Linked DNA regions of Homo sapiens. The protein of the gene in region 1 interacts with the protein of each later gene in a pairwise test. Each region holds a gene or a part of one and is shown on either strand. Other genes may lie near its edges.

Region 1 (7,027 bases):
TCTGTTCATACGAAACACTGCGAGGCGACACTTGTGTTTGTAGATTGACAGAAATTGGAGGTGGAGTTAAAGAGGTAGAAACTCAGTATAACATTCATTGCCTCTTTTGCTAAAGTTGTTTCACTGCATAAGAAAAAGATACTGGTCGGGCTGGGTGCGGTGACTCATGCCTGTAATCCCAGCACTTTGGGAGGCTGAGGCAGGTGGATCACCTGAGGCCAGGAATTTGAGACCAGCCTAGCCAACATGGTAAAATTCCGTCTCTACTAAAAATAAAAAAAATTAGCCAGGCATGGTGGCGGGCGCCAGTAATCCCAGCTACTTGGGAGGCTGAGGCAGGAGAATCGCTTGAACCTGGGAGGTGGAGGGTGCAGTGAGCCGAGATCACGCCATTGCACTCCAGCCTGGGTGACAAGAGGGAAACTCCGTCTCAAAAAATTAAAATAAAAAAAAAAAAAAGAAAAAGAAGGAAAAAAGAGAAAGAGATAGTGGTTCCATGTGCTGTTCTAGTTACACAAAACAACGTGTTGACGTGCAGGCTGCACGATGCCAGGTGCAAATACACACTACCTGTTACAGTAACTGTGACAAGCACAAGGGCTGCTCACTAGCTTGAGTGCAACTTCTGGGGAGTTGATGGCAGTGATCTGTGGGTACTTCCTTCTTAACAAATTTTACATCAATACTGCAACACAGCAATCTCAGCCCTGTGGGCTATACCATAGCCACATGCTTTCACCATTTCCTGCTCAAAGGGAGAGCCCAGGAACTGAATGCTCTTAATCAGGGAGAGCACAGAAACAGCAGCAGAACAGCTGGAGAACCAGGGCTGTGTGGTTTTGGACTGTGGGGAGGGTGGGCCATGGGCAGACTTGACACAATGTGGGAGGGCATTTGACACAGCCCCGTGGAGGACCTAATGCTCGGGGAGGCCTTCACCCAGCACAGTGAGCCATGCCGACACTTGGTGCCTGAGTGCGCTGGTCACAGCGCCCTCCCTGTGATTTTCCCCATAGCAGTGTGTTTTCTCTGCCAGGCAGAAGGCAGAGAAACCCTGGCTGAAAAAGCAGTGAGGGTCATCGACTGCATGAACACATCATCAGCTTTCCCAGATGGAGGCACCCAAGTTTACCCTGCAGGTCCATTCAGCAGGTAGAGCTGGGTCATCACTAAACAGGATCTTTCTTCTGAGCATCTGAGATTCTGGTCCAAATCAGGGCTGTGAGGACCAGGAGCCGGGATTCCGAGCCCAGGCAGCCCCGCAGATAAGGAGGAGGGAGTGTGTCGGAAGGCTGTATGGCCAGAGCCGCTGACCGGGCCAGGGCTTCTTTGTCCCCTCTTCTCTCCTGCATATCAGCACTCACGTCCTCCTGGCTCGGGCTGGCTGGCAGCTCGGGGAGCTGTTGGATGAAACGTCCATGCGTGTGGCTGTGGCTGTCACATGCAACTGCGAGGATGGTCGGCTCCCAAAGCGGAACCGCGGTGCTGGGCGAAGGGTCAGGGCTCCGTGGTGCGGCAGAGCGCATGCCAGCGCTTCACCAGCTCCTTGGGCTTGCTGAGCATCTCGTCCCAGTGCTCCAGCTCTCTGCCGCGGGTGTACATGTAGGGGCCCACCACCACTCGGCCCAGCTGCTGGCTCTCTGCAGGGGAGGGAGAGCACCGGTGTGCTCCTGAGCACAGAAGCCCCGTCCCCAGTGACCTCCTTTCCTCCCTCCTCCTCCCCAGGAGGAAGTAGCAACTCCCCTCCTCTCTGAGTGGGAGCTGACAGGCCCCAAAGGGGCCCTGCCTTTGCTCTGCAGCTGGAAGGGCTGCTTCTCCCCCTGGGAGATTGGGAGGAAGGAGAGCCCTGAAAGACTCTCTCCTTGAGGGCCACCAGCTCTGCCCCACACCCTTCTGTGGGGCCGTATTAAGTCTACCTTATGCCAAAGAGCTGAGGGAGGAAAGGGCCCCTCTAGAAAGAAGGCCTCGGCCATCCGAGAGTACATTCAGCAGTAACATTCACTGGCCACCGTGGAGAAGGGTCTTAAGTCCAGGCCATGTGGCCAGCCACGGCCTGATGGCTCTGTTTCCCCAGAGTGGCAGTGGGTGCTGGGGTGTGGGGCAGTGTGGGAGCTGGCTGACAGAACTCGCCCAGAACCCCAAAGTCTCATCTGGAGGGCACGAGGAAGGTCAGAGCACCAGGTCCCTGGGCTGGTGGCAGGCCTGGCCCCTCCCACTCTCTCGGGTGATTTGCTCCAGGAGAGGGCAGCAGAGGCCATTGCTTAACCTCTTTCTTTTTCTTTTCTTTTCTTTTTTTTTTTTTTGACAGAGTCTCGCTCTGTGGACAGGCTGGAGTGCAGTTGCAAGATCTTGGCTCACTGCAACCTCTGCCTCCCGGGTTCAAGTGATTCTTCTGCTTCAGCCTCCCGAGTAGTTGGGCCTACAGGCGTGCACCACCACGCCTAGCTAACTTTTGTATTTTTAGTACAGACGGAATTTTACTATGTTGGCCAGGATGGTCTTGATCTCTTGACGTCGTGATCCACCCCTCTCGGTCTCCCAAAGTGCTAGGATTATAGGCGTGAGCCACCGCACCCAGCCAACCTCTTTTTTTTTTTTTGAGACGAAGTCTCGCTCTGTTGCCCAGGCTGGAATGCAGTGGTGCGATCTCGGCTCACTGCAAGCTCCGCCTCCCAGGCTCATGCCATTCTCCTGCCTCAGCCTCCCAAGTAGCTGGGACTACAGGCACCAGCCACCACACCCAGCTAATTTTTTGTATTTTTAGTAGAGACGTGGTTTCACTGTGTTAGCCAGGACGGTCTCGATCTCCTGACCTCGTGATCTGCCTACCTCGGCCTTCCAAAGTGCTGGGATTACAGGTGTGAGCCACCGTGCCCGGCCCTTTTTTTTTTTTTTTTTTTTTTGACAGATTCAGCAGCCTCGCCTCCTGGGTTCAAGAGATCCTCCCACCTCAACCTCCCAAGTAGCTGGGATTACAGGGGTGTGCCACCACGCCCAGCTAATTATTGTATTTTTAGTAGAGATGAGCGTTTCACCATGTTGGCCAGGCTGGTCTTGAACTCCTGAGCTCAAGTGATCCACCCACCTTGGCCTCCCAAGGTGCTGGGATTACAGATGTGAGCCAGCATGCCCGGCTGCTTAACCTGTTTCTAGGGTGCCACAGACAGAGCTCAACTGGACTAAAGCTGGGCCTGAAACCCAGGCCTTGGGCAATATTTCAGCCTTTCTGAGCACTAGTTTCCTTAACCAGGGAGGGAGCTCGTACAGCTCCTTCTGAGGTCAGGACAGGAGGCACTCACTCTGCCTGAACACTCGGCAGCCCCTCGTGGTCCCCATCCCAGCAGCCCAGGGTAGGGTGTGGCCTTACTGTCCCCTTCCATGTTCTGCACCACAGTCAGGCTGAGGCTAGCGGTATCCAGCTCGGTGGCATCGGCCTTGAAGCTGAAGGTCTCATTGTACACAGGGTTGATGGAGCCCAGCACAGCTGAAGTCTTCTTGCACTTGACAAACTTGTTGTGGTTCATCAGAGACACTTTGACAAACACACCTAGGGAACGGTGAGCACTAGTGGGCTGGCAGAGGCAGGTGGGAGCAGAGCCCCTGCCTGTGGGAGGTCCGGCTAGGAGGGCACGTGCCCAAGCTAGGTGCCAGGGCCCCACCCCTCACACAGTGCTGCGGCCCCGCCGGCGTGACCAGAGGAAGCCGGCTGAGGAGTGCACTGCCCTGCGGCCCAGGCGGGGCTCCGCTCCCTTCCTTTTCCTTCCTCTTTGCATCAGGAAAGTACCCACGGCTCCTGCAGGCCCTGGTTTACCAGAGCCTAGCACCGCAAGCCTGTCCCTCCCTGTTGGGGGGCTGCTCACTGGGCCCCCAGGCCCCCTGGGGCCCCTTAAACACCTTGTACAGAGGGCTAAGATTTGGTGGGTGAGGGTCAGAGTCACAGTGGAAGGTCTGGATCCTGCCTGGCTTACGGTGACCCCAGATGTGAACACAAACAGGTGGCTGACCACCACCTCACTGGGATGGGTGGGATGTGTGGGGTGAGCCCAAATGGGGTGGGACATGTGGGGTGAACCAAGGCCTCCCCTTCTGCAGCTCCTGTATTCTGGGAGGCCAAGCATCAGTGCCCATTGAGTCGGGGGCTCTTCCCCTGTGGGGAGGGAGGTGCGGGCCTCACCCTGGAGGAACTGGACCCATGCCGCTGATGGAAAGGTGGAGGTGGAGGCAGGCAGGACAGTTCAAAGAGCCAAGACGCTGCCTCGGGAAACAGGAGGGGCAGGGCCTGGTATTGCGGCTGGGTTAGAACCCTCCGTAGGGGAGGCCAAGGAGATGCAGCTTTGGGTTCAACACAGGAAGAGGCTTCCTGCACCAGAACTGTCGACCGAGGGACAGCACGTCTTGTGAGGTAGTGAGCGCTCCATGATAGGTGTATGCAAGCAGAAACTGGATGGTCAGGGATGAGGTTGGACTGTAGCCCCAGGCTGTAAGCTCGGTGGGTGGGACCTTCCCCAGGAGGAAAGGGAGGAACTCACTGACAATGCCTCTGTCCTCCTGGAGCCGGAGGCCCTTGGCACGCAGCACAACCACCGTCAGGCGGCTCAGGTAGTCGTTGTAGCTGAGGCAGAACTGGAGGTCGCCAAACTCCGAGGGGGGCTGGGGAGGCCAAGATGGAAGCACCCCACCCTGTTACTCTGGCAAGTGCTGAAGGGGTCACAGAACCCCCAGAGAGCCTCCCGCTTCCTCCTAGCGGTCCATGCGACACACCCGCATGGTCCCCTTTGAGTTCCACTGCCATTTTAAGGATGGGGCAACTGTGGTCTGGAGAGTTTAAGGGGCTTGTGCAGTCCTGTGGACCAGAGCTAAGGAGTCACACCCAGGTCTGAGCCAGCTGGGGCCTTCCTGGGGGTGGTGGGCTGGAGGAAACATTTCCCTGGGCTGGACCATTTGTGGTGTCATCTCTCACAGCTGTCTAACCTAGATAAGAATCCAAATGTGGATATTTCAGGTTGCTCCAGGGGGTCTGATGGCCAGTGTGACAACAGGACCTCAAGCAGGCCCTCCCTGCCCAGGGGCAGGTCCGTTCCCACCTGTCCCATGCTGCTTGGGGCCTGGGCCCTCCTCCCTGAGTCACTGTTGTAGGGTGGTGTGCAGGATGCTGAGGGCTGATGCCGCCAGCAGGTGCTGGGCCCTGTGCACACCTGCCAGCTGATGCTCAGTGGCATAGGCATGGTGACCTTGACCATACCTCCAGGCTCTCGGCCTCCAGGTCTCTCCAGATGACACGCCGGCAGTCCCCCACTAGGGTCTCATTCTTCAAGGGGAAGAGCACCTGGCCCAGGAGCTGGTGCTTCCTCTGCCTGTCCACGTGGTAGACGGAGAACTTCAGCACCCTCTGGGTGATGGTCTTGCTGGACACCTGGGGGGGACAAGGACACCAGCCAGAGTCAGGCGTGGGGGTAGGGGATGGGATGGTGTGACTTGTTATTCTGGACATGGGTGCTTTTGGGAACGGGTGTCTCAACCAGGGACCCACATCCCCCAAACCTAGGCATTTTCAGGGGACCCTTCTCAGCAGCAGAGCCGTGTACCCCTGGAAAGTGGGGGTAGGTGCCAGGACCTTGGTACACAGAGTGTGGTCCGAGGACCTGTAGCGTCTACCACCACTTGGAGCCCTGTTAGAAATGCAGGATCTTGGGCCCCAGCCCAGATTCATGAATTGGAATCTGCCGTTTAACCGGAGCACCAAGTGACATGGCTGCACGGTGAGTGTGGCTCCGCCACCACCCTGCACTGTAGCAAAGGCCCAGGAGCCCAGGGCACCGGCCTGTCTCTGCTGTCAGAGCTGGGCATGCCAGCTCTCTCCTCCCTGAGATTTGGCCTCCTCGCCTGTGAAATGGGGATTATGGGTCTTCCTCTCTGGTTGTAAAACCCCAATCACAGTGTCTGACCTCCAGCAGATGGCCCATTAATATTGATTTTCTTTTCTTTCCCCTTCTCCCTTTTCCACAGAGGGATTGGATCAAGCTGGGGCGAGATAGAGTGGGGAAGTGATGAGCTAAGAAAAATTAGCCTGCAAGCATGACGTGTCGCACGTCAGCAAGGCTGCAGCCTTGGATTCTGATGTCTTGAGAAGAGCGATTCACCTGTGAATTCTCACAGCCCTGGCCTCAGAAAGACGGCCCGGGACCAGGCCCGATGGCACCCCTCTTCCCAGCTCTCAGCCAGGGCGGAAGGCACAAGTGATGGCCCTGGCCTCCGCAGTCACACTCCTCCTGAAAGCTGACTGGCTGAACCTCACCTCTTGGCTAGCTTGCCACCCAGCTCTTGAGAACATGTTTGTCCAAGGCCTCTTGGCAGGTCTCGATGACTCCTTCCCCTAAGGGCCCCCAGTCACCTGCTAAGGCTCCCAGGCCCCTGTGAAACTGGCTCGGTGCCCCAATAGACTCTCCACCTCCAGACCCTAAGCCGGCCAGCCCAGAGTGCAGCAAGGCACCACACCTACCCTGTGAGGGCACTCGGGCCCCGCGCTGGCCTCTGACAGCACAGGAAGCTTCTGCATTCACGCTGAGGCCTGTCTTTTGCCTTCCTTAGATAAACTTGCCAGAAACCCCATAGTGCTTCAGGCCTTTGGGATAATTCCCCTGAGCCCCATAGGCCAGGGCCTGGCATTCAGTAGTTGCTCTAAAATTGTGTTTTCACCCACTCTCTTCCAGGTAGTCAGGACAGGGAAGCCCAGGCTTCTGGTCACCACTCACCAAATCTCTCCCCTGCCCCTCTATCAGGGATCAGCTCCTATAGGCCTTAACCTAGCAGACTAGGTAAAGCAGAGCTGGTGGCATCAAGGGTCCCGGGGGCTGCAGAGCCCTGGCTGGTACAGGAGGCTGGGCTCTCCTGTAGGTCTGCACCTTCCCAGCAACGCGGAGGGCACCAGACCCTGCCTGCTCCAGAGGCTGTACCTGAAAGATGAAGTGCTCGTCAAACTGCGGGTTGGAGGTTTTGCGTTTGGTCTTGGATTGGAGGAAGCGCCGCT
Region 2 (6,368 bases), on another chromosome or scaffold:
ATCTACACTGCCTTGCACATTGTGACTGCTTCATAAATATCTAGAATTAACTTTTATTTCTTATTTTACAATACGGAAGTAGTAAATTTTCTCTACCTAATTCTTAAAATGGTTTTTTGTTTGTTTGTATTTTTGAGAGACAGGGTCTTACTCTGTTACCCAGGCTGGAGTGCAGTAGTACCATCGTGGCTCACTGCAGCCTTGACTTCCCTGGCTCAAGTGAGCCTCCCATCTCAGCCTCCTGAGTAGCTGGGACTACAGGTGTGTGCCACCTTGCTTGGCTTTTTTTTTTTTTTTTTTTTTTTTTTCAGCGATGGGGTCTCACTATGTTGCCTGGGCTGATCTTGAACTCCTGAGCTCAAGCAATCCTCCCACCTCGGCCTCCCAAAATGTTGGAATTACAGGTGTGAGCCACCATGCCTGGCCTCTCAAAATATTTTAAGGATCAAATATATTATTAACTAACCAGTTTTTGGAAACTGCTCATCACTTAAAGAAATGTAAAATATTATATGATTAAGGTCTAACAAGTTTCAACAATTAGCAAATTATATCATAGATGATAGTGATTCCAATGAGCAAAGAGGAAAAATTTATAATCCAAATGCTGACCTAAAATATCTGTGCCAAGCCATCTAAACTCAGCTAAATAGCACTGCAGTTTCAGTACTAAAACCACCAGGGAAGTAGGAGGAATAAAATCAAGCATGGTTTTTAGAAATAGCTGCTGAGTCTTCAGTTATTTAAGGAAGCAAAATATTGGGAAACTGTGTAAAGAAAACGTGTCAGACTTCTCCCATCAGCCAGCTAAGGCTTTGGATGTACTTGAAAGAATATTATGCTTACAGACATGAAATAGGTTTGATTCAGGACTTTGCAGTATTCCTATAGTTGATTTATAACATCTCCTGCTAAGCAAAGCCCACTGACTAATTAGTCACCACTACACAAGGAAAAACAGCATTATTTTTAGAGGCTGAATTAATGTTAGTTTTCTCATTTTCTCATCTTCATTCTCTCTGCTGTTGAAGAAATGTTCAGTGGCCAACTGATTCTGCTTCTTCTCTTGCAGGTTTCCTATCCTGGGAGCAGGAGAGTGTGCCTATTTGAATGACAAAGGTGCCAGTAGTGCCAGGCACTACACAGAGAGGAAGTGGATTTGTTCCAAATCAGATATACATGTCTAGATGTTACAGCAAAGCCCCAACTAATCTTTAGAAGCATATTGGAACTGATAACTCCATTTTAAAATGAGCAAAGAATTTATTTCTTATACCAACAGGTATATGAAAATATGCTCAATATCACTAATAACTGGGAAAATACAAATCAAAATCATAGTAAAATATTACCTGTTTTCATGGTGCTAATATTACCTGTTCTCCCACTGCTAATGACATACCCGAGACTGAGTAATTTATAAATAAAAGAGATTTAATTGACTCATAGTTCCACATGGCTGGGGAGGTCTTGCAATCATGACAGAAGGCAAATGGGAAGCAAAGTCATGTCTTATGTGGTGGCAGGCAGGGGGACTTGTGCACAGGAACTCCTATTTATACAACCATCAGATATCTTGAGACAAGAACAGTATGGGGCTCCCTGGTGTGATTCCGTCCTGCGCGGCTGTTCTCTGGAGCAGCATTCATTTATCTTCGTCTGCCTTGTCTCCTACCTAAGTGTGTGTCGCCACCCGATGGAAGATTCGATGGACATGGACATGAGCCCCCTGAGGCCCCAGAACTATCTTTTCAGTTGTGAACTAAAGGCCGACAAAGATGATCACTTTAAGGTGGATAATGATGAAAATGAGACCAGTTATCTTTAAGAACGGTCAGCTCAGGGGCTGGTGCAAAGGATGAACTGCACATTGTTGAAGCAGAGGCCATGAATGACGAAGGCAGTCCAATTAAAGTAACACTGGCAACTTTGAAAATGTCTGTACAGCCAACGGTTTCTCTTGGGGGCTTTGAAATAACACCACCAGTGGACTTAAGGTTGAAGTGTGGTTCAGGGCCAGTGCATATTAGTGGACAGCACTTAGTAGCTGTGAAGGAAGGTGCAGAGTCAGAAGATGAAGAAGAGGAGGATGTGAAACTCTTAAGTATATCTGGAAAGCAGTCTGCCCCTGGAGGTGGGCAGAAAAAAGTAAAACTTGCTGCTGCTGCTGATGATGATGATGATGAAGATGATGATGATGATGATGACGAGGAAGCTGAAGAAAAAGCGCCAGTGAAGAAATCTATACGAGATACTCCAGCCAAAAATGCACAAAAGTCAAATCAGAATGGAAAAGACTCAAAACCATCATCAACACCAAGATCAAAAGGACAAGAATCCTTCAAAAAACAGGAAAAATCTCCTAAAACACCAAAAGGATCTAGTTCTGTAGAAGACATTAAAGCAAAAATGCAAGCAAGTATAGAAAAACGTGGTTCTCTTCCCAAAGTGGAAACCAAGTTCATCAATTATGTGAAGAATTTCTTCTGGATGACTGACCAAGAGGCTATTCAAGATCTCTGGCAGTGGAGGAAGTCTCTTTAAGAAAATAGTTTAAACAATTTGTTAAAAATTTTCCATCTTATTTCATTTCTGTAACAGTTGATATCTGGCTGTCCTTTTTATAGTGCAGAGTGAGAACTTTCCCTACCATGTTTGATAAATGTTGTCCAGGTTCTATTGCCAAGAATGTGTTGTCCAAAATGCCTGTTTAGTTTTTAAAGATGGAACTCCACCCTTTGCTTGGTTTTAAGTATGTATGGGATGCTATGATAGGACATAGTAGTAGCAGTGGTCAGACATGGAAATGGTGGGGAGACAAAAGTATACACGTGAAATAAAACTCAGTATTTTAATAAAGTAAAAAAAAAAAAAAAGGTATGGGGAAAACTGCCCCCATAAAGCAATTGTCTCCACCTGGCCCTGCCCTTTGCATGTGGAGATTATTACAATTCAAGGTGAAATTTGGGTGGAGACACAACCAAACCATATCAGATGGCTATATCAAAAAGACAAGAAATAACAAGCATTGGTGAGAGTGTGGAGAAGACGGAACCCTTGTACACAGTTGGTGGGAACACAGTTTGGTGCAGCCATTATAGAAAACGTCATGGAGGTTCCTAAAGAAATTAAAAAGAGAACTACCATATGAGCCAGCAATCCCTTTTCCAGATATACACCCAAAGGAAATGAAATCACCACCTCATAAAGATATCTGCTTTCCTGTTTATTATAACACATCTTTATTCATAATAGCCAAGATACGGAACTAACTGAAGTGACCATTAACAGATGAATGGATAAAGAAATTGTCATATATATAAAACACACACATTATATACATACATACATATATATATATATATAAAAAATAGAATATTATTCAGCCTTGTAAAAAGAAATCCTGTTATGTTGGGAACAAGCCCCCCAAAATCTGGCCATAAACTCACCCCAAAACTGGCCATAAACAAAATCTCTGCAGCACTGTGACATGTTAGTGATGGCCATAACACCCACGCTGGAAGGTTGTGGGTTTATGGGAATGAGGGCAAGGAACACCTGGCCTGCCCAGGGTGGAAAACCACTTAAAGGCGTTCTTAAGCTACAAACAATAGCATGAGCGATCTGTGCCTTAAGGACATGTTCCTGCTGCAGTTAACTAGCCCAATCTATTCCTTTAATTCGGCCCATCCCTTCATTTCCCATAAGGGATACTTTTAGTTAATTTAATATCTATAGAAACAATGCTAATGACTGGCTTGCTGTTAATAAATACATGGGTAAATCTCTGTTCTGGGCTCTCAGCTCTGAAGGCTGTGAGACCCCTGATTTCCCACTTCACACCTCTATATTTCTGTGTGTGTGTCTTTAGTTCCTCTGGCGCTGCTGGGTTAGGATCTACCCGACTGAGCTGGTCTCAGCACTGTTATTTGAAACAATGTAAATAAACCTATAGGGTTTATTATATATACTAAGTGAAATAAGCCAGACACAGAAAAAAAATGTTGCATGATCTCACTTATAGTGAAACTTAAAAAAAAAACCCAAATACATAGAAATAGAGTAGAATGGTGGTTACCAGAGATGAGGAAAATACAGAGACACAGGTCAAAAGATACAGAGTTGCAGTTACAAAGGGTGAGTATGTCTAGATATCTAACATACAGTATGAGGACTATAATAGTATTGCACTGTGTACTGAAAACTTGATGACAGATTTTAGATATTCTTACCACACAGACAAAAAGAAATGTAAGTATGTGAGATGAAGCTTATGTTAATTAGATTAAGTGTATGTACATAAAAACATCACATTATACACATCAAATATATACAATAAAAAAGCACATTGGGAGATACATGATAAATTTCTATCTGCAGTTGCTATTTGCATTTTTAAAGGATATTTTTATTTTTTAAATTTTTAGCTGACAACTGTATAATTATGGAATACAATGTGATGTTCTGATATATGTGTACACTATGGAATGATTAAATCAAACTAACATTTCATCATCTCACATACTTATCATTTTCTGTGGTGAGAACATTTGAAATTTATTCTCTTGACAATTTTGAAAGATCCAATACACTATTATTAACTATAGTCACTATGCTGTGCAATAGATCTCAAAAGCTTATTCCTCTTAACTGAAACCTACTACCCTGTGACATGTGGGGAACATCTCTCTATTCCCCAGCCCCAGTCCCTAAATGTTGAATACACAATGGGGAAAAAATAGTCTTCAATGAATGGTGGTGGGAAAATTGTATATCCACATGCAGAAGAATAAAATTGGACCCTTACCTCCTACCATATATAAAAACCAACTGAAAATCGATTAAAGACTTAAACTGTAAAACTACTAAAAGAAAATATAGGGAGAAAGCTTCACAACGTTGGTCTGGGCAATAATTTTTGGATTTGACCTCAAAAGTAGATGCAACCACAGTGAAAATAAACAAATGAAATTGCATAAAATAAAAAATGTTTCTGCACAGCAAAGGAAATAATTAATGGAGTAAAGAGACAACTTACAGATTGGGAGAATATATTTCCAAACTATTGTTGGGGCTCAGAAACGGATACCCTAACATATAGTGATTTGACAGGTGGAACTAAAGAAGACTCGAGGTCTCTCTGACCTCCTCCTCAACCTCTGTTTCTTAATCCTCTGTTTTCCCAGAGCACAGGAGGAAGTTCTCTGAAGTTCCTTTATCTGCTTTAAGTTCAGACTCACCAAATAAGAAAACAGTTAATTCTGGTGCCTTCCATGGGTTTTCATTAACTGAAGTCATATTGTAGGAAAAAGAATGAAGTCTCTTAACCCACCTGGATAGATTTTTCTCACAAACCATTGTCTTCTCTGCAAGCCCAGTAGACTTTGTCCCAGGCCATTTATGTGATCTTCACCCCATTAAGTTCTCCCCAAATTATTTACTCTTCCCCCAAAATCACCCACACTTCCCCATCTCCCTCTCCCCTAAGGACAAGGGTATATCACCATCTATACCCCATTGCTTGGTGGGGTGATCACTCTGATTCTCTGCATGCATTTTTATAGATTTGTTTGCCATTTATCCTATTAATCTGCATTCTGTCAATTGTGGCAAGTTATCAGCATATTTTTTAACTTTTAATTATTCTTAATGGAAAGACACTTCTGTATACACTGGAAATCTCAGGAAATTTCTTTTTTCCTTAAGCTTAATTGAAATGTTTACTTTTCAGTAAAATTTCAAGCTTGAGTAATGTTCATGCCTGCTTTTCATTGAAATAGAATGAAAAGGTTGCACAATATTATTTTCATGAAATTACTTCTAGTATAATTCTGAATAAACACTTTGAAAGGCAGTGAACTGTAAATATATTACAGCTATCTCTTATTCTTCAGGGTGGGTCTCAATTATGTAAAAGATGATTGGCTTTCTGTTTTAAGTAATAGTCATTTTGAAAACACTTTAAAACTGTCAAGTGAAGTGTGATGGCTAATTTTATATGTCAACTTGACTGAGATAAGGTATACTCAGCAGGGAAAGCATTATCTCTGGATGTGTCTATGAGGGCTTTTCTGAAAGAGATTGATGTTGGAATCACTAAGCTGTGTAAAGATGATCTACCTTCACCAATGTTGGCAGGCATCATCCAATCCGTGCAGGTCTTACCCAAACAGAGCAAAAAGTCAGGTAGGGTAAATTTATTCTCTTCTAAAGCTAGGGCATCCATTTCTTTCTACTCTCAGACATTGGAGTTCCCCAGTTTCCCAGACCTTTGGCCTTACACTGAGAATTATGCTTTGTTTTATTTAGGCATATTTTAATAATACTTCATGTATTGGTCAGGAAGACATTTCCTGGTTCTAAGGCTT

Evidence for each region.
Region 2: the proteins of SYT15 (region 1) and CLEC2D interact in binary tests that used the Homo sapiens proteins (3 or more experiments, as listed by UniProt).

The regions. Positions count from the first base shown.
Region 1 is NC_000010.11:46,582,118-46,589,144, reverse strand, and holds part of SYT15 (synaptotagmin-15), read right to left. Parts: coding exon 6,954-7,027; exon of another isoform or gene 6,007-6,953; intron 5,414-6,006; coding exon 5,243-5,413; intron 4,651-5,242; coding exon 4,530-4,650; intron 3,548-4,529; coding exon 3,368-3,547; intron 1,641-3,367; coding exon 1,498-1,640; 3' UTR 1-1,497. UniProt on the Homo sapiens protein: May be involved in the trafficking and exocytosis of secretory vesicles in non-neuronal tissues.
Region 2 is NC_000012.12:9,693,688-9,700,055, forward strand, and holds the end of CLEC2D (C-type lectin domain family 2 member D), read left to right. Parts: intron 1-1,072; coding exon 1,073-1,187; 3' UTR 1,188-5,866; downstream 5,867-6,368. UniProt on the Homo sapiens protein: Receptor for KLRB1 that protects target cells against natural killer cell-mediated lysis. Inhibits osteoclast formation. Inhibits bone resorption. Modulates the release of interferon-gamma. Binds high molecular weight sulfated glycosaminoglycans.